Regions from separate parts of the Homo sapiens genome. Here all the other regions are linked to region 2. The links come from fine-mapping of genetic effects on gene expression. A gene starts in region 2. Each other region holds a variant in brackets. All regions are shown on one strand. Distances are between the middles of the regions. Region 1 has its middle 30 kb from the start of AFF3. Region 2 holds the start of CHST10 (carbohydrate sulfotransferase 10). Region 3 overlaps LINC01104 (long intergenic non-protein coding RNA 1104). Region 4 has its middle 26 kb from the start of PDCL3.

Region 1 (5,150 bases), 250 kb before region 2:
AATGTACCAAGTGTTGGAGATGATGTGGAGCAACCGCGATTCTCATACATTGCTGGTGGGAATGTAAATGGCACAACTATTTTGAAAAACAGTTTGGCAGATTTTTAGAAAGTTAAACACATACCTACCATATGGCCTAGCCATTCTACTCCTAGATAGACTAGACAAGAAAAGAAAACGTATGTCCACGCCAAGATTGTATGCAAATCTTTTTAGCAGGCTTATTTGCAATAGCCTCAAATGAGAAACCAACACACATCAAGAGGTGATTGGTTAAATGAATTGCAGTGTGTCCATACAGTGGAAGTATTGCCCAGCCAAAAAAAAATAAAAAAGAATTATCAATACAAAGCACGATGCAAATGAATCTCAAAATAGTTATGCTGAGTGAAAGAAGACTGACAAAATGAACAGACTTATGATTTTGCCTCTATTAAATTTAAAGAAAAGGCAAATAATAGAAAGTGTCATCAAGCTGAGGGATGAGGCATGGGGAGGGCAGTGGGAGGTACCACAAAGGAGCACAAGCAGTCTTGTGGGAATGCTGGAGCTTTCCATTATCTTGATTGTGGTGATTGGTAATGGTCTCACGGGTGTATACATATGTTAAAACTTATCAAATTATTTACTTTAGGTATGTGTGCATTCTCATCTGTCAATTCACTTCAGTAAACCTGTTAATAAATTTAAATACAGTTTTTCTACAAAGATATCTTTTGTCCTAGAGGTAGTCACTGGTGAATTCTTCTGAACTTAAGGAAGAAATAATACCATTCTTACACAAACTCTTTTAGAGAACACATGAAAAGAAAATACTTTCCAACATGTTCTATAAACCCAGCATATTCTTGATAGCAAAACCAGACACAAGAAGACAATACAAAAAAAGTCAGCTAATCTCTCTTCTGATGCAAAATCCTAAAGAAAATATTAACAAACTGTATCCTGCAATTTATGAAGAGTATAACATATCACAAGGAATTGGTTTTTTTCAGTAATGCAATGTTAGTGTAACATCTGAAAAAATAGTTCAATGTAATTCATGTTATGGATGTAATTTCATAATAGATGTGAAAAATCATATTATTTCAACAGATTTATAAAAAGCATTTGATTAAATTCAAGACTGATTTATTTACTTTAAAAAACACCAAACTAGATATAAAAGGGAACGCCCTTAGAATGACAAAATATTTACAAATAGTCTACAAGAAACATTTTACTTAATGTTTCTTATAGAAACATTATAGAAAAGCTAGTGAAAGCTTTTATCCCTGTGATTAGGCATGAAACAAAGGTGTTCACTCTCACTGCTTCTTTTTTTCTTTTTTTTGAGACAGAGTCTCTTTCTGTCGCTCAGGCTGGAGTGCAGTGGTGCGATCTCGGCTCACTACAACCTCTGCCTCCCAGGTTCAAGCGATTCTCCTGCCTCAGCCTCCCGAGTAGCTGGGATTACAGGTACCCGCCACCACACCTAGCTAAATTTTGTGTTTTTTAGTAGAGACGGGGTTTCACCATGTTGGCCAGGCTGGTCTCAAACTCCTGACCTCAAGTCATCCAGTCACCTTGGCCTCCCAAAGTGCCAGGATTAGAGGGATGAGCCACCGTACCTGGCCTTGCTCTCACTGCTTCTGTTCACTATTATACTATATAATATGGCCAGTACAAGAAGGTTAGAAAAAAATTACAAGAATTGACAGGAAATAATAAAACTGTTATTCTTCACAGCAGCATGATTGTTTATGTAGGAAAGATTCCACAAACACTCAGAATTAATAATAAATGTAGTGAGAACACAGAAAACAGAGTCAAAATACAGCAATCAATTGTATTTCTACATATGAGGAACAATCACAAAATAAAAATTTAATAAGATACAATTTAAAAAAATCAACAAACGTCATATAACTAGGAATAAACTTAATGAAAGTTATGTAATTCTTCTGCACTGAAAATTACAAGATAGTATACAGAGAAATTAAAGGAGACCTAAATAAATGGAGGATATACCATATTTATTTTTTATCCTATAAAAATCTCATTTCTCCTCAAATTGACCTATTGATTCAGTAAGTTTATATGGGAATGCAAAGGGCCAAGAAGAGTCAAGACAACCTTGAAGAATAAGAAGAAAGATGAAGATCTTATCTAACCACAGAGTAATTCCTTATTTATTTATTTATTTATTTTTGAGACAGGGTCTTGCTCTGTTACACAGGCTGGAGTGCAGTGGCATGATCATGGCTTACTGCAACCTCCACCTCCTGGGCTCAAATGTCCACAGGGGCCACAGGCGTCCACCCCTGCGCCCGGCTAATTTTTGTATTCTTAGTAGAGACAGGGTTTTGCCATGTTGGCCAGGCTGGTCTCAAACTCCTGGCCTCAAGTGATCTGCCCACCTTGGCCTCCTAAAGTGGTGGGATTACAGGCGTGAGCCACTGTGCCTGGCCATACCCACAGTGTAATTTCTATGGAAACAATGGAGAGTCCAGAAACAGACTGGCATGTACATTGTCACTGATTTATGACAAGGGTGACACTGCAGCACAGTGGGGGCATTTTTTCCAAAGGCAGTGCTGGGCCAATTGGATACCCATAAGGGACAAAAATCTTGACATCTGCGTCACACCATACAAA[G/A]TTACCAATTCCAGGTGACTTGCAAATCTACCTGTGAAGGGTAAACCATAAAACTTCCAGAAGAAAACATTGGAGAATATCTTTGTGACACAGGGTTAAGCAAAGATTTATTAAATAGGATACAAAAAGCATTGACTATGAGGGAAAATTGATAAATTAGACTATGTTAAAATTAAGAATTTCTGTTCCTCAAAAGAATAGAATGCTAGGGAGTTAAGGTGCAAATCATTGAATAGATCAAAGTATTTGCAATTCATATCTAACAGAGAATTTGATAAAGAAATTATACCAATAAATGAAGAAAATGCAGACAAACCTTGGACAAGACATGCAAGCAGCTATATCACAAAGGGAAGACAAATGTTCAATATTAATATGAAAGCGTTTCACATCATGAGACATCAGATGAATACAAACCAAAATCACAAGGAGATACTACTGCATATACACCAAAATGATTAAAATAAAAAAGACAGACAATACCAAGTGTTGATAAAGATGTGGAACAACTGGAACTCCCAATCACTATTGATGAGTGTGTAGATTTATACAACTCTTTGACAGTAAAATCTACTAATGCTGAATATCTGCATAACTTATGCCCCTGGGTATATCCCCAACAGAAATGTGTACACACACTCCAAAATGCACATGCAAGAATATTTATAGCAGCATTACTGATGGACGCTGAAACGAAAAACAGCCCAAACGTTCTTCAGCATCAATACATGAATCAATAAATTGTGGTATAGTCCTACAACAGAATACTCTACAGTAGGGATCAGCAGACTTTTTTGTCAAGAGCCAGAAAATAAACATCTTCAGTTTTGCAGATAACAGATTGCCTCTGTTGCATATTCTTCATTTTTTTTACAATCCTTTACAAAATAAATGTCATTGTTAGCTTGCGACTCATACAACAATAGGCCATGGTGGGCTGTAGTCTGCCGTTCCCTGCCTTAGATCAATAGCAATGAACGTATTACTGCTACATGCAATAATGCAAATAAATGTCACAAACAGAATTTTGCCTAAGAGAACCCATTCACAAGAGAGTGCATACTTATAATTCCAGGCAAAACTGATGATGGTAGAGGACTTGACAGCAGTCACCTTTGGGGATAATGGTAGTGATGAAAGAGGGCACATAGAGAGCATCTGAGGTGCTGGCAGCATTGTTTCCTGATCTGGGTGATCATCATATATGTATGCATTTAGTGAAAACTTAGTTATACACATATGATTTGTATAATTTTCTAAATGCATATTATACTTCCATAATAATTTTACTTAAAAACTCTATAAAATCACCAATGTTCAGTTTCCTCTGCAATTTTTAGTTGCCAGTAAAGTTAGCCAATTCTTAACTGCCACTGTATGCCAGTTTCTTTTTAGCTGTCCTAATCAGTAAAACCTTAGCCCACCAAAATACCTAGCACCATCTAAAATGTTTGCCAGTGGCCCAGAAGAATGTGTTTGTGGCTCATAGTCAATAGACTGTTGTTAAATAAAAGCAAAATTATTGGCTTTCCTTGTCATGAGAAGGGGGAGAGAGATCGAGAAAGAGAGAGAAAGAAAGAGGAAGCAAGACAGAGTTGGAAAGCAACGAGAGCATTGCCCTTGAGGACAATGGCCCCAGCATCTGGCCTGCGGTCCTTCTGCTGGATCACAACACTTCTATTTTCAGTAGAAAAGAATTAAGAGCACTCTTTCATTAGAAACAAAAAGCCTAGCTGAACATATTTTTCTCATTTGTACTTTATCCTAAACATTTGTAAAGATTTAGCAGCTCACTCCAGCAAGCCTTTTTAATCCACATTCCAGTAATAGAGATTACAGAAATGCTTTCTCAAGGACATTCTTGTGTCCAGGCTTCAACAGAGCCAAGATACTTCATCCTCTTAGGGCGCCTGGTGAAACCTCGAGATCGTGACCCACAGGACAGACAAGAAGATGATTCTCTGAGCCTGGCGTTCTCAGACCAGCATTCTGTCAGGATGGGATTGGAGGGCAAACCCCAGGGTGTGGGCATGAACAGTGGCTCATGCCTGTAATCCCAGCACTTTAGGAGGCCGAGGTGGGCAGATCACCTGTGGTCAGGAGTTCGAGACCAGCCTGGCCAACATGGCGAAACTCAGTCTCTACTAAAAATACAGAAATTAGCTGGGCATGGTGGTGCATGCCTGTAGTCCCAGCTACTCAGGAGGCTGAGGCAGGAGAATCACTTGAACCCAGGAGGCAGAGGTTGCAGTGAGCCGAGATCGAGCCACTGCACTCCAGCCTCAGCAACAGAGTAAGAGACTGTCTCAAAAAAAAAAAAAAAAAGAAAAAGAAAAAAGAAAAAAAGAAAAAAAAGAAAAAGAAAAGAAAAGAAAAAAGAAAAAGAAAGTGGTCAATGCTAGGAAATGCTGCTGTGTCTGAACTCTGGGTGGAAAAAGTAATGGATCCTGACTTTTCTTTCAATAGTAGTTGAGCTGGATATGCAGTAGGATTCAGCATCTTGAAAAAATGTG
Region 2 (5,150 bases):
TCATTTAACATACAATAAAGCCCAAGCTGACTGGGACACATGCAGCACGGTCTCTCTCTGCCTCCCTTTACTCTAAGAACTCAATGCTAAAATTAAAAGCAATTTCCTATTATGTTGATTGAAAGATTAAGCTTTATATACAGTCATTCATCACTTAACAATAGGGATACCTTCTGAGAAATGTATCGTTAGGCGATGTTCTTCTGCAAACATCAGAGCGTTCTTACATAAACCTAGATAGTACAGCTAACCACACACCTAGGCTATATGGTACAGCTGACCACACACCTAGGCTATATGGAATCATCTATTGCTCCCGGGCTACTAACTTGTACTGCTGTTACTGTACTGAATACTGTAAGCATCTGTAATACAATGGTAAGTATTTGTGTATCTAAAATTAGAAAAGGTAGAGTAAAAATAAGGTAGTATAGTCTTATGGGACCACTGTTGTATATGTGGTCCATCATTGTTAGAAACATCATGTACGGCATTTGATGGTCCTCACATCCAGGTTATCCAGAAGTGTATGAAAAGAAAATGAACTCCTGGGTTTCTGCAATCTCTAAGGTCCTGCAACCACCTCTCTCCCCTGTTTCTATTCCTGGCTCTCTCTCACCTTTTTATTGTATGAACTCCTCAAACACTGAAAAATGATCCGAATATAACTGCAAGTTGCCTGTGATGTTTACAAATTCTTTCCTTTCTTTGTTCAGTTTTGCAAACACTCCAATTTTCATTTCAGCGAAGAAGAGAATTTTCTGCTCAGGTATTTCTTTGAGATTCTATTCTTCAGGGTCAAGAGCAATTCTGAATTCTGAATTCCAATTCTGAGCCAAGATGGACTAAGCTCTTAATTATAATGGGGAGGGAAGGGAAAAGACCACTTCTCTCTTTGTGTCTTTTCATTTTAACCCAGTCACTGAAAAGAGTGAAGGAGGAGGTGGTTGGTTATCAGAGAGCCAGAGCTAAACTGAGCTGCCTAATTTTAACAGCGTCTGAGACATTTCTCACTCTGGCACTCTAAGCAATGCAATAACCCAACTCCTCATGGCCCAAAGCCCCAGACTCTGGTTTTCAGACAAAACAACAACAACAACAACAACAACAAAAACCCACCGTTATGACAGTCCTGCCGCTGAGCTAACCAGAACCTGGCTGCACTACTTTCCATTCACTGCCCAACCCTTTCCTGCCTTGCAGACTTGGAAAGCAAAAATGACATTTTGGAAAACCTGGTTCACCTTCCCAGCCAGAAGTGCAGAACTGCATGCCTCAACCTCCAACTTCGGACAGGCCTCCTGACAGCGAAGATCAGAGGCTCAGGGCACCCCGGGGCCCCTCAGGCAGGGAACGTGCATTCCCACCCCTGACTCCCCTCGCACCGAAGCTGCACATGCTCCTTCTTCCCTGCCTTCCTCTGCATGCTCCTTGGACCCAAGCTGAACCCTTTCTTCCTCTCTCCATCTACAATTACAAACGCAAATTCTCAGCCAAGGATGAAAGAAGTAAATTGTAGGCTCGCACAATATCAATAATTCCGCGGGTCACAGCATCCCGCACAAGGACGCCTTCTTATTGCATAATTAACGCGAGGAAGGCTCTTCCCGCTACTCCCGCGAACTAGGGAGGTCTTCAAGTCGCCAAAACACACCGGGATGTGGCTCGCCAGGACAAAACCCGCGGGTTCCCCGGTTTTTCCGTGCGCCCCGCGGCGGGGAGAGGGGCCCAGGCGCTGAAACCCACCCGCCTGCGCGTCCCCGAGCTCACCCTACTGGAGCGGCGCTCGTCCGGGTCCTTAGGCTCCTCCCCTGGCCCTGGGGGCGCCGCGCGGGTCGGGCTTCGCCGGGCCTGTGGGCGAAGCGCGCGGGGTCCTGGGAGCTCGGGAGGCCCGCCCCACCTTGCCCCGAGGCCTCCGCGCCGCGGCCCGTCGGGTCCCGGGATGTGGCGGCGGCGGCAGCGGAAGTAAGGAAGACGCCCGGCGCGCTAGACCGGCTTTGGGGGCCAGAACGCCGGCACCGCCTCACGCGGCCCCCTCGCGCCTATCCGGCCGTGCGCGCCGCCTGCCCGCGCGCGTCCCCGCCGCCGTCCCCGGCCGTGCGCGTTCCAGCGGGTCGCGGGGAGTGGGGAGGGGCGCGGCCGCGGGACCCCAGGCCCGGATCCCGAGTCTCCCTTTCTGCCGCTGCAAAAGCGTTCTTTCTGACCGAGACCTGCGGCCGGAACAAGTCCCGCTGGGCCTCCATCCAGAAAACAGGTTCGCTTTTTGAGAAAGAAAAAAAATCCCAAACTTGGAAAAAGGCAAAAAACCAAACCAAAACAACAACAAAGTCACACACACACACAAAACCACCTTGGAAAAATACAAAAAATAGATAAGTAAATTTCTTAAATCCCCAACTTGGAAAAAGGCCACTTGCTTGCGTTAAGGGTAACTTCTAGCATTTTCTAATAAGCCTACTTAGTAAAAGGGGGACGTTCTATTCTTTAAAGAACCCCCTTGGCTGTCCGGGTTGGGGATGTAACTGTTGTCTAGGTACAGTGGATTAACGAAGGACAATGATAACGGCCTGACCAGTTTACAGACCTGAAGAATTGTAACTTCTTAACCTGCAGAAATGGATAAGGCCTGAGTCAACCTCAAAGGTATTGGGATTTTATTGCCCCAAAGAAGATAAACTAGTTTTATTTTTATACAACCTACATGTTTGTTAACTACCCGACTATATCTGTGTCTATTTAGCAAACAAGTAAAATAGATACGTGTATGTATACACACACACACACACACACACACAATTTTTCAAAGCTTTCAAGGAACAAGCGTTTTTGTTTTTGTTTTTTTTCTTTTTTATTGGTTCCCTCCTTAATGAGTTAATAATATTGAGGGAGCTGGCTGTTTGAGTATTTCACTTCTAGCCCCATTACTAATCATGGTTTAAAGGTTCTGTCCCTCATGCAGAAGACGTTTACTGAGCCCTTTTTTGGGGCCCTGTGGTTGAGATGAGACATTGGGTTTCCCTTTGAGGATTTGAATCGATACACGTGCACGGCAGAAAAGAAGTAAGTAAATGTGAAGCTTGGATGTGATGCAGCATATTATGCAGGATTTAAGGATCAAGGCTCTGGGAATCAGACCACGTGGATTCAGAGCCTTAGTCACTGCATATGACTGTTGACCTTGTCACACTCTCATCTCTCTGTGTCCCAGTCTTCTCATCTACAGAATGTGGTACTAGGCCGGGCGTGGTGGCTCACGCCTGTAATCCCAACATTTTGAGAGGCGGAGGTAGGTGGATCACCTGAGGTCGGGAGTTCGAGACCAGCATGACCAACATGGAGAAACCCTGTCTCTAATAAAACTACAAAAAAAATTAGCCAGGAGTGGGGGCACGTGCCTGTAATCCCAGCTGCTCGGGAGACTGAGGCAGGAGAATTGCTTGAACCCAGGAGGCGGAGGTTGCGGTGAGTCGAGATCTCGCCACTGCACTCCAGCCTGGGCAACAAGAGTGAAACTCCTTCAAAAAAAAAAAAAAAAGTGTGGTACTAAAGAATATTGTAGAGGATGCATTTAAAATACAAAGCACAGTCATCCCGCAGTAGTAAACACTGCAACAAACACACACTATTGTCACTGTTATTACTGCATTCCCAAGATACTGTTCAAAACTTTAAAAGATGGAGTTTGTTCTAGAGGCTTACACATTGACAACTAAGGTAACTGAGGTTTTTTGGTTTTTTTTGTTGGAGTTTTTCAAAATAGTTCCTCTTTTTTTCCTATAAATGAATGTCTAGGAAAATATTAGTATTTAGTCTTTTTTTTTTTTTTGAGACGGAATCTCGCTCTGTCGCCCAGGTTGGAGTGCAGTGGTGCCATCCCAGCTCACTGCAACCTCTGCCTCCTGGGTTCAAGTGATTCTCCTGTCTCAGTCTCTCAAGTAGCTGGAATTACAGGTGCGTGCCACCACACCCGGCTAATTTTTGTATTTTTAGTAGAGACGGGGTTTCACCATGTTAGCCAGGCTGGTCTCAAACTCCTGACCTCAAGTTATCCACCCGCCTCAGCCTCCCAAAGTGCTGGGATTACACGTGTGAGCCAAATATTTAGTCTTTGTAGCAGGAGGATTGTTTCTAAAATAGCAGTTCGCAAAGAGTGATCTCCAAAAAGTGGATCTTTAGGAGTCTCCAAGATCCTTTCAGAGGATCTGCAATGACAAAACTGTTTTCATAGTTGAACTGGGACATTATTTGTCCTCTTTACAATGTAGACATTTGCTCTGATTGTGCAAAAGTAAGCACAAATCCCAGCAGTGGGACAACACCAAATCAGTAGTAACTGCATCCTTCACCACCATGCACTTGCAGTAAAAACAAACACAAAGTGTCACTGAAGAATGTCCCCCGTGAAGCAGTCATGTCCCTCATGACAGGGTGGGAAATGCACAGAAACAATCCTGCTGCATCCCAAGGATGATGGTTGCTGAAGGCCGTGCCATTGTGCAATGGCCTGCAATGCACAAGCTGCAGCTCTTTTTTATGGAACGCCAGTTTTACTTGAAAGCAGAACTGACAGACAAACTGCAGTTACCCAGATTTGGGCATTTGGCAGACATTTCCTCCAAAATGAATGACATGGGCCTGTCACTTCAAGAAAAACAAATGATAGTGTTTGTTGTCTGTGATAACATTCAAGCTTTCAAGTGAAAAATCAGACTTTTGCAAAACCTGTATCCATCACTGTAAGTTTGACAGCTTCCCAATATTTAAAGATTTTTCTGATGAGATCAGAAGTAGTACTAACAACTAGTTGTAAAAAAATATTGTATAGTGATCAACCAGTTGTAGTGTAATAAGAAATATGTATTTGGCCTTTGACCCTGGTTCCTGACTGATACAGTTTGGCTGTGTCCCCACCTAAATCTCAGTTGTAGTTTCTGTCATCCCCACGTGTCATGGGAGGGACCCTGTGGGAGGTAATTGGATCCTGGGGGCAGTTACCCCCATGCTGCTGTTCTCCTGATAGTGAGTGAGTTCTCATAAGATCTGATAGTTTTATAAAGGGCTTCCCCCTTCACTCAGCACTCATTCTCTCTACTGCCGCCCTGTGAAGAGGTGCCTTCCACAATGATTGTAAGTTTCCTGAGGCCTCCCCA
Region 3 (5,150 bases), 170 kb before region 2:
TGTTGAGTAATGACCATATGCCAGGTGCTTTCACACCCACATCAATGCTCCAGACTCCAAGAGCTGGCGGTCATTGGATCCAGTTCATAGGGTGGAGAAGAGGAGGTTCAGAGTGGTGAACTAACGGGCCCAGGTCACACAGCAGAACAGTGAAAAGGTCATGGATGGCTTAAAATACCAGCCCTTCCTTCACCCTCCTTCAGCCTCTTTCTCTCTCTCTCTCTCTCTCTCTCACACACACACACACACACACACTCCCTTCATAAAAATCTCACAATGGCAAGTGTCTTATATGAGACACACAGAGGAGAAGATCCTGTGAAGAGGGAGGCAGAGATTGGAGAATCACAGCCACAAGTCAAGGAAGGCCGACAACCACCAGAAGCTGGAAGGGGTAAGAGCAGCTTCCCCGCGCTGTTTCTAGAGGGTGCATGGCCCTGCCAGTACCTTGATTTTGGACTTCTGGCTTCCACAGTTGTGAGATAATACACTTTCCTTGTTTTACGTCAACATTTTGTGTAATTTGTCTCGGCTGCCACAGAAAGTGAATAGAAATAGTTTTCCCTCAGCGCAACCTGGTGATGCACGTGTTCACTTTGAAAACACGTCATTTCCACCTGCAAAGGTTTTAGGTTCCTCAAAGGGACTGTGCAGAGGGATCGCTGCAAGTGAAGTCAACATTTGGCCTCATTCTGTTAGAACACCTGCAAGAGGAGGCTCAGGTGCTGACTGAACAAATCCCCTGGCTCTTGGGGTGGTCCATGCCTTTACCGAATGCCTCCTTTGTTGGGGTCATTCTGCTGGGAAGACATTCCCATTGGAAGATACTGGACCTTTCCTTTACCATGTCAGGCATGACACTCCTACGTTAAAAAACTGTCCATACCAAGGGCATGACAGGCAATTCATAGAAGAAAGCAGGATGATCAATGGCCTATGAAAGGATCCTCAGCTGTGGCTAGGCGCAGTGGCTCACCTCTGTAATCCCAGCACTTTGGGAGGCCAAGGCAAGAGGATCACTTGAGCCCAGGCGTTCGAGACTGGCATGGGAAACATGGCAAAACCCCATCTCTATAAAAACTTAGCTGGGTGTGGTGGCATGTGCCTGGAGTCCCAGCTACTCAGGAGGCTGAGGTGGGAAGATCATCTAAGCCCAGAAGGTTGAGACTGCAGTGAGCCACCATCGTACCACTGCACTCCAGCCTGGATGACAGAGTGAAACCCTGTCAAAAAAAAAAAAAAAAAAATCCTCAGCTGTTCTAGAATCAGAAGGCAAATAAAAACCACAGTGAGACACCTTTCAATTACATCAGATCACCTGAAATCAAAAGTGTTTCACAACAGCACTGGTAAACAATGTTTTTTGTTTGTTTGTTTTTTGAGATGAAGTCTTGCTCTGTTGCCCAGGCTGGAGTGCAGTGGCACCGTCATGGCTCACTGCAACCTGTGCCTCCCAGGTTCAAGCAATTCTCCTGCTGCAGCCTCCCAAGTAGCTGGGGTTACAGGTGCGCACCACCACACCTGGCTAATTTTTGTATTTTCAATAGAGACATGGTCATGTCTACATGTTGGTCAGGCTGGTCTCAAACTCCTGACCTCAAGTGATCCTCCCGCCTTGGCCTCCCAAAGTGTTGGGATTACAGATGTGAGCCAGTGAGCCCGGCCATAAACAATGTTAATAATTGTAGCTTTGTTTAGTTCGGGAAAAGGAAAGAACCCAAATGTTCACTGGAAAGAGGATAGACCTGTAAATTGAGGCACAGTTACACAATGTTAATTACCGATAAAGCTGGGCCTAACCACAGGTTGCAGGAGATATATATATCTATATAGGACACTGTGGAAGGTTGGTCAGTGTTTGAGGACTGGGGTGAGTAAGAACACACGCTTGGTTAAGGTGATTTTCACTTTTTTACTGAGGAACAGCAGACAAACAGCACAAAGTATGTAGCCAAGTTTAAGGGTAAAGTGAACGGCTTAGATTCCTTTTTTTTTTTTTTTTTCTGAGATGGAGTCTTGCTCTGTCACCCAGGCTGGAGTGCAGTGGCGCAATCTCGGCTCACTGCAACCTCCACCTCCCGGGTTCAAGCGATTCTCCTGTCTCAGCCTCCTGAATAGCTGGGATTACAGGTGCACGCAACCACATTTGGCTAATTTTTTGTATTTTAGTAGAGACGGGGTTTCACCGTGTTGCCCAGGCTGGTCTCAAACTCCTGAGCTCAGGCAATCCACCCACCTTGGCCTCCCAAAGTGTTGGGATTACAGGTGTGAGCCACCGCACCCCACTGGCTTATATTCCTTTTTACATCTTTAGTTCCTCAAACAAGCTCCATGGTCGGTGGTCTCTACAGCCTGTACAGAATGAGGAGTTTCCCAGGCTAAAGGCCGGATCTGAGGGCTCACTCACTAC[C/CTGTGTG]TGTGTGTGTGTGTGTGTGTGTGTGTGTGTGTGTGTGAGTGTGCATGAATGCATGTGCCTGTGTGTGCATGTGTGCACACACACAGACGTTGGGGGAAGGATACACCAGCACTCACAAACCTATTATTTTTATTATTCTTTATTATATCATACTACCTATAATTGTTCACGTCTTAAAAATAAATATGAATCAAATCCATAAACATGTTAGGATTTGATAGAGTCAACAATGGGGCCAAAGGTGGGATTATATTCACAGGGCTTTTCTGTAGTATGCAACATTTCATTTCAAAAATCCGTCCCTGGGTCCTGTCAAGTTACCATCTGCCATCCCAGGTAGAAGTCAGGAACTAGAAGAACTCGCCAAGGTTTGGGAACCTTTGCAAATTGACCACTTTTGTGCTTTCTGTAACCCAGTCTCTCCTTGCAGGGATTATCAAAGCCGTTCTAAAAGTCGAAGAGTCCTGTGTATATATGTTTTGGTGGTCAGAAGAAAGAAGCGAGTGCCCAGGAGGCAGTGTGGAGTTTTCATGGATGACCTCCCAGGCTTGTCTCCTCCTGAGCCAGGGCAGGCCGCCAGATGGGCGTTCCAGCCCAGGGGAGAGCTGTGCTCAGCGGAGCCCCAGCTCCGTAGAATGTGAGTCCCTGGGCCAGGGTGGAGGGGCCCGGTTGGTGAAACCTTGCTTCTGGCCCTGAAAAAGACTTGGCAGGCTTTCCTGCCCAGTGGCTTAGGTGGCGCCTGAGGCATCTTAGGAAAATGCTGTTCAGTTCTTTAGAACCTGAGGTCTGGAGGATCTATTAACATGCTTTTCCCTGGGCTGACCTTAGGACCAGTTCGTTTACCGACATGAAGCGGCATGGCTTTCAAAATGAACAGTGGAGCCAAAGAGAGCAGGAAAGCAGAGAGACCCATGTCCACCCTGAACGCTGGTTGTAGAGGTCCCAGCTGATCACTCCTGGTCTTGACCACTTCCCTCCCCTCCCTTCAGCTGCAGCCTCTCATGCCTTTTGATTATGGTGCTGATGAAAGCGGTGGAAGCAGCTCTTCTCTCAGCATCGGCTACTCCACTTTGCAAGGCCTGCGTTTGGGTTGTGCTTTTCAAGTAAGGAGATGTTGCTACCCTGGGAATCACATCAATGTGTTCTTAATATTTAGGGCTTATTGGTACATGCCTGCTGACTCAGTGAAGGTCCTATTGGATGACAAAAACAAGCAGACCAAAAACTCAAAGGGACTGATATGGTCTGAGTGGCCACAGCTTGATCTGGGCTCATTTTAGAGGCGCTGGGCTGTGCTGCCCTGTCCCAGGCTGCTTGCTGCACACAGCTGTTGGGCGCTGGAAGAGTGGAGAGTCGAGCGGAGGTGGGTGCCGAGTTGAAAACCCACACCAGATTTCAAAGACAAAACAAAGGAAAATAACTCATGAATAGTTTTTCTATGGATTACATGTTGAAATGCTAATTTTTAGATATTTAATATATTAAGTGAAATAAAGTAATATTAAAATTGGTTTCATCTGTTTCTCTTCACTTTTAAAAAATATGGCTACTCGATTACCCATGTGGCTTGCATGTGTGGCTGACATTGTATTTAAGTTGTCTTAAGGGAATGTTACCCTATATATACTAAGGAATCCAGGCTTAAATGAACAAAAAACAAACACCCAAAAAAACAGCAACCAAACCAAACACTCTGCCCGGATGACCCAGCTGTTCCAAAGGTTCTTCTTCTTTGTCTTTTTTTGAGATGGAGTCTTGCTCTGTCACCCAGGCTGGAGTGCAGTGGCAGGATCTTGGCTCACTGCAAGCTCTGCCTCCCAGGTTCATGCCATTCTCCTGCCTCAGCCTCCCAAGTAGCTGGGACCACAGGTGCCCGCCACCACACCTGTATTTTTTTAGTAGAGATGGTGTTTCAGCATGTTAGCCAGGATGGTCTTGATCTCCAGACCTCGTGATCTGCCCATCTCGGCCTCCCAAAGTGCTGGGATTACAGGCGTGAGCCACTGCGCCCGGCCTTATTATCTTTTAACCAATGGTGGTGGGAGTGGCTGGCCTGAACAAGGGAAGCAGGAGGTGCATTGTCTATAGAGAATTTAAAATGAGAAGAAAACTAACTCAAGTTTAGCCCTCTTTTCATCACCACCACAAGCTCCGTTGTGAACAATGTCAGTCCTGAATGACGGCTCCCTGCCCAAATGGGCGGCTCTCGCAGCCCCTGCCCGGCCAGATGTGTCATGTCAGGTGACTGTGTGGTACCTTGGTGTGACTCTTGGCCTTTCTCCCGTCTGTAGAGGGGCCCTCTGGATCCAAGTGGCCATGGCTAGCTTCCTACAACCCAGCCTTCCTGACTTCTCCCAATTTCCCCTCAGCCTCCCGGCCTTGGGCTCGCTCTCCAACGTGAAGTTCTTGCCTCTGCCTTGAATCAGGACTCTGTGGCCTCACCACCACCTGCTGGCAAGCTCCTACCCTTGCCTCAGGACCCGGCCTGGCCTCTCCCCTTCGGTGAAGCCCTTAGCGTCTCGGTCAGTTGGGGCTGCAATAACAAATTACCATAGACTGAGAGGCTTCAAGATAAACACTGATGCTCACAGTTCTGGAGGCTGGAAGTCTCAGGTCAGGGGCCACATGGTCAGGCTCTGGCGACGGCCCTCTGTCAGCTTCTCATGTGTCCTCACATGGTGGAAAGAGGGCAAGAGAGCTCTCGGAGGTCACTTTTATAACGACTCCAATGTCATTTATG
Region 4 (5,150 bases), 120 kb after region 2:
AAGACAGCTCTAATGCTTGCTACTTTTCTCCTAAATTTCTAGATTTTATTTCCTACACAAGATCTAAGAAATTGAGGGAGAATAGTCTCAGTGATTTTGGTAGTGCTTTTGGCCACCCTGCTCCATGTCACTGGGTGTTCCAATGTCATTGGCCAGGGACACCACAGGAAAAGCTGCTGCAGTCATTGGTGCATTGGCTTAGAAAGTTCATTTCTCCACTTGCCTCCTTCAGACCCCTGGACCCTTCCCAAATACCAGCTCCCCTCAGTTCGCAAGTGCTTCGAGTTGGTGCCATTGACCTTGACTCAGACCCAGCCACTCCATAGAGCACTGCTGCCATCTGTCCCACAGACCATGGAGAGGACTTGAGGCAACAAGTCACGATGTTTGGCCCTGCAGTGCCTCCAATCAAGCCTTTGGCTATTTGGCCCAGCTCGTTAGGACAGGGAAATGGGTCACCCCCTTTCAGACTCTCTCAATTTTACTAACTTAAAGAGATGTCAGAAGCAACAAACCCTTGTTTTGAAAATGAGTGATTTTGTTTATCTTTTTTTTTTTTTTTTTTGAGACAGGGTCTCACTCTGTCACCTAGGCTGGAATACAATGGTGCCATCATAGCTCACTGAAACCTTGACTTGCCAGGCTCAGATGATTCTCTCACCTCAGCCTCCCGAGTAGATGGGATTACAGGGGCACACCACTACATCTGGCTGATTTTTGTATTTTTTATAGTAGAGATGGGGTTTCACTGTGTTGCCCAGGCTGGTCTCGAACTCCTGAGCTCAAGTGATCCACCGGCCTCAGCCTCCCAAAGTGCTGGGATTACAGGCATGAGTCACCTTGCCTGGCTCTTGATTATTTTTATCTTAATCCCTTAGGAGAAAAACAAACTGTTGTTTTGAGTAGTACAGAAATAAGATTTAAGGATATTGCAGGCCGGGCGCGGTGGCTCACGCCTGCAATCCCAGCACTTTGGGAGGCCGAGGCGGGTGGATCACAAGATCAGGAGTTCAAGACAAGCCTGGCCCAAATGGTGAAACCCCATCTCTACTAAATATATACAAAAATTAGCTGGGTGTGGTGGCAGGCGCCTGTAATCCCAGCTACTCAGGAGGCTGAGGAAGGAGAATCACTTGAACCCGAGAGGTGGAGGTTGCGGTGAGCCAATATCATGCCACTGCACTCCAGCCTGGGTGACAGAATAAGGCTCCGTTTCAAAAAAAAAAGAAAAAAAGAAAAAAAAAAGAATATTACAAAAAGCAGACCAGGCGTGGTGGCTCATGCCTGTAATCCCAGCACTTTGGGAGGCTGAGGCGGGCAGATCACAAGGTCAGGAGTTCGAGACCACCCTGGCTAACACAGTGAAACTCCGTTTCTACTAAATACAAAACAATTAGCCGGGCGTGGTGGCGGGCGCCTGTAGTCCCAGCTACTTGGGAGGCTGAGGCAAGAGAATGGTGTGAACCCGGGAGGCAGAGCTTGCAGTGAGCTGAGATAGCACCACTGCAGTCCAGCCTGGGCGACAGAGCGAGATTCCGTCTCAAAAAAAAAAAAAAAAAAGAATATTGCAAAAAGCTTTGAATTTCGATGTGATTAGTTCAAGTGGAGTTTTATTCCTTCATGAAGGTTGCTGAACACATTTTTTTTTAAGGACCTGCTATGGGTCATACTGATATCGTATTGCTTGGTCAGTCCTAAGACTTCTGTTTTACTGTGAATGCTGGTCAGCTGTACCTGAATTCCAAAGGGAGGTGAGTAATGAGGCATTCCCCATCCTCCCCCTTTCTTATTATGGCCTGAGCTAGAATTTCAGATGAACTCTGGAGTGCCCTTGGCCAAAAGGAGCAGTCCATTCAGTCGGTTGGGGGACTTAGAATTTTATTTTTGGTTTCCAGTGTTTTTCCCAACCACCAAGTAGCAGACAGCAGCTATGTGCCTTCAATTCAGTCCCCACACTCTCTACCTAGGGATAGCATCAGATCTTGTTGACAAAAAGAGTCAAACTCTGTAAAATATTTGGATAGATTTATTCTGAGCCAAATGTGACAATGGCCCATGACACAGCCTCAGGAAATCCTGAGAACATGTGCCCCCACATTTCTTATTTGAATCTTTACATATGCTAGAACAGATGAACAAAGATGCTTAAGTAATTTTCCTGGCAACATATAAATATAAAGCAAAGCAATGGATGTAGTTTATTGAAAATGTTTGCACTAAGTATGTATTTCCATTGATTAAAAGCCTTGTCTGAGGTGGTTGGCACAAGGGGAAATAGCTAGGCTGTGTTCATCTCAAACATTCAATACATGTAGCATTCAAAACACTTTAATAGTTAACCACCTCTTCCTCCTTGTCTCGGCCCCTCAAAGTGCTGAGATCAAAGGTGCGAACCACCGCATCCAGCCTAAAATCTCCCTTTGATGGATCGCATTAACTATTTAAAAACGTTTTCTCTAATATATGCTACTTATCTAAATCACAGTCTCCAGATTTAGAGAATTCTATTCAAAGAGAAGGGTGTCCCCATAGCCTTACATAGCAAATAGCAAGATTAGACCTCTAAGAATTTCAACTAATTAAATTATTAACTATAAAATAGCCGGGTGTGGTGGCTCACGCCTGCAATCCCAGCACTTTGGGAGGCGGGTGGATCACGAGGTCAAGAGTTCAAGACCAGCCTGGCCAAGATGGTGAAACCCCGTCTCTACTAAAAATACAATAATTAGCAGGGTGTGGTGGCAGGTACCGGTAATCCCAGCTACTCGGGAGGCTGAGGCAGGGGAATTGCTTGAA[C/T]CCAGGTGGCAGAGGCTGCAGTGAGTGGAGATCACACCACTACACTCCAGCCTAGGCGACAGAGTGAGACTCCATCTCAAAGAAACAAACAAACAAACAAAAAAACTTAAAATTAGCCAAGTGTGGTGGCACATGCCTGTAATCTCAGCTACTCAGGGGGCTGAGGCAGGAGAATCGCTTGAACCTGGGAGGCAGAGGCTGCAGTGAGCCGAGATTGCGCCACTGCACTCCAGCCTGGGCAACAGAGTGAGTCTCTCTCAAAAAATTTAAAAAGGGAGATTTTAGATAAATATTTTCTTCCTTTAATAACACTGATATCCAAAACCTCTTTAAAGATACAATCTTGCCGAGCGCAGTGGCTCACGCCTATAATCCTAGTGCTTTGGGAGGCCGAGGCGGGCAGACCGTGAGGTCAGGAGTTTGAGACCAGCCTGGCCAACATGGTGAAACCCCATCTCTACTGAAAATACAAAAAGTAGCTGGGCATGGTGGTGGGTGCCTGTAATCCCAGCTATTCAGGGGGCTGAGGCAGGAGAACTGCTTGAACCCAGGAGGTGGAGGTTGCAGTGAGACGAGATCAGGCCACTGCATTCCAGCCTGGGAGACTGAGCTAGACTCCGTCTCAAAAATAAAATAAAATAAAAATAAAGATACAATCTTCACTGACTGATACAGCTCCGATGAGTGGAGGAACACCACCAGGGCTCTTGTCTCCCACGAATTGGGTAAAACGACATGGACACACATGGAGTGGTTTTAAGGAGTGGAAAGTTTAATAGGCAAGAAAGAAGGAAGAAGCTCCCCCATTCAGTGACAGTCAGAGGGGACTCCAAATCCAAGAGAGGAGACCCCATGTGCCACAGAAAAGTGGCTGCTTATATGAGTAGGCTGGAGGAGGTGGTGTCTGATTTGCATAGGGCTCAGGGGATTGGTTTGACCAGGGATGTCATTCACCTAGCCAGCAAAAAAACTGGCCCTCCGACCCTAGCCTTTTAATATACAAGGCGTCAGGATGTTGTACCCACGTGGGGATATGTGAGGGCGGCCATATTGTCAGGCACAGGTCAGGGCAAGGGCAAGGAGAAGAGGGCGGAAATCGCCTTGTTTGGCTGGACTCAGTTTCTAATGGCTTGCATTTGCATATCAAAGGTTGCCACTTGGCTCTAAGAGCTGGGGCTTTCCTGCTAGACAAGAAACGTTTCAGCCAGGGGTGGTGGCTCACGCCTGTAATCCCAGCACTTTAGGAGGCTGAGGGGGCTGGATCACCTCTGGTCAGGAGTTCCGACCAGCCTGGCCAACATGGTGAAACCCCGTCTCCACTAAAAATACAAAAAATTAGCCAGGCATGGTGGCGGTTGCCTGTAATCCCAGCTACTCGGGAGGCTGAGGCAGGAGAATCGCTTGAAGCCGGGAGGTGTCGGTTGCAGTGAGCCAAGATCGAACCATTGTACTCCAACCTGGGCCACAGAGCAGGACTCTGTCTCCAAAAAAAAAAAAGTTTATGGAGCTGCTTTAAAAGAAACAACTTTCCAAGGACCCCTTTTCTTCTCTATCTGCCTAAAATAATTTCTTAATAACTCACACAACATTACGATAATTGTTGTCACATGATATAAGCTTCAATTATTTCATAACACTGGTCCTGTCCTTCTTTCAAAACATCATAGCTGACTCAACACTAGATGGGTAAGAAATGCTATATTTTGCTTCCCTGATTCTCAAAACTATAAAAAAGATACAACTTTGAAAAGTTTCATAGAGTAGGCTGGGAAACACTGATGTCACGTTGCAGAAAAATCTAGGCTCTGAAATAACACCACGTCCCACCCAACCCAACCCCACCCTGTTTTCCCTTATCTCTGATAGCTGAGTGATTATGTTAGCAAAAAGCAAGAGGATTTTAAAATTGAATGTGCCTCCCAAGAGCTCTCAGTGTACCAGGGCTGACTTTTAATATTATTAAGGCTGGAGTGGTGGCTCATGCCTGTAATTCCAGCACTTTGGGAGGCTGAGGCAGGCAGATCACAAAGTCAAGAGTTGGAGACCAGCCTGGCCAACATTGTGAAACCTCGTCTCTACTATAAATACAAAAATTAGCCGGGCATGGTGGCGCGTGCTTGTAGTAATAATATAGACTCCGTCGCAAAAACCATACATATATATATATATATAATTTAAATATTAACATTTTAATATTAAAATTTCTGAAGATGATTCAGCTCCTTATAGAAAAGGATCCAAGTAAAGCCAGGCTGTTTTCCACCTCCTATTGGAGGACATCTTAGCAAGACAATAGATTGTTGTGGGGTTTTGGCTCCATAGTTTGGGGAAGTAGCTTAGGATGAATGTTTGGC

Evidence for each region.
Region 1: its variant is fine-mapped to the expression of CHST10 in whole blood (INTERVAL, PIP 0.91).
Region 3: its variant is fine-mapped to the expression of CHST10 in whole blood (INTERVAL, PIP above 0.99).
Region 4: its variant is fine-mapped to the expression of CHST10 in whole blood (TOPMed, PIP 0.95).

Annotation. Positions count from the first base shown.
Region 1 is chr2:100,169,849-100,174,998 of GRCh38, forward strand. No RefSeq gene overlaps it. Among named protein-coding and RNA genes, the nearest start is that of AFF3, 30 kb to the left of the region's middle. The variant G/A (reference allele first, on the strand shown) is at 2,638.
Region 2 is chr2:100,415,604-100,420,753 of GRCh38, forward strand. CHST10 (carbohydrate sulfotransferase 10) reads right to left here and starts at 2,065. Exons shown (of 7, transcript NM_004854.5): 1 at 1,771-2,065. RefSeq lists silencers at 1,561-1,710, 1,721-2,170.
Region 3 is chr2:100,250,257-100,255,406 of GRCh38, forward strand. LINC01104 (long intergenic non-protein coding RNA 1104) reads left to right here. Exons shown (of 3, transcript NR_103730.1): 3 at 1-1,228. Among named protein-coding and RNA genes, the nearest start is that of LINC01104, 45 kb to the left of the region's middle. RefSeq lists an enhancer at 4,751-5,150. The variant C/CTGTGTG (reference allele first, on the strand shown) is at 2,411.
Region 4 is chr2:100,534,238-100,539,387 of GRCh38, forward strand. No RefSeq gene overlaps it. Among named protein-coding and RNA genes, the nearest start is that of PDCL3, 26 kb to the right of the region's middle. RefSeq lists an enhancer at 3,596-4,147. The variant C/T (reference allele first, on the strand shown) is at 2,797.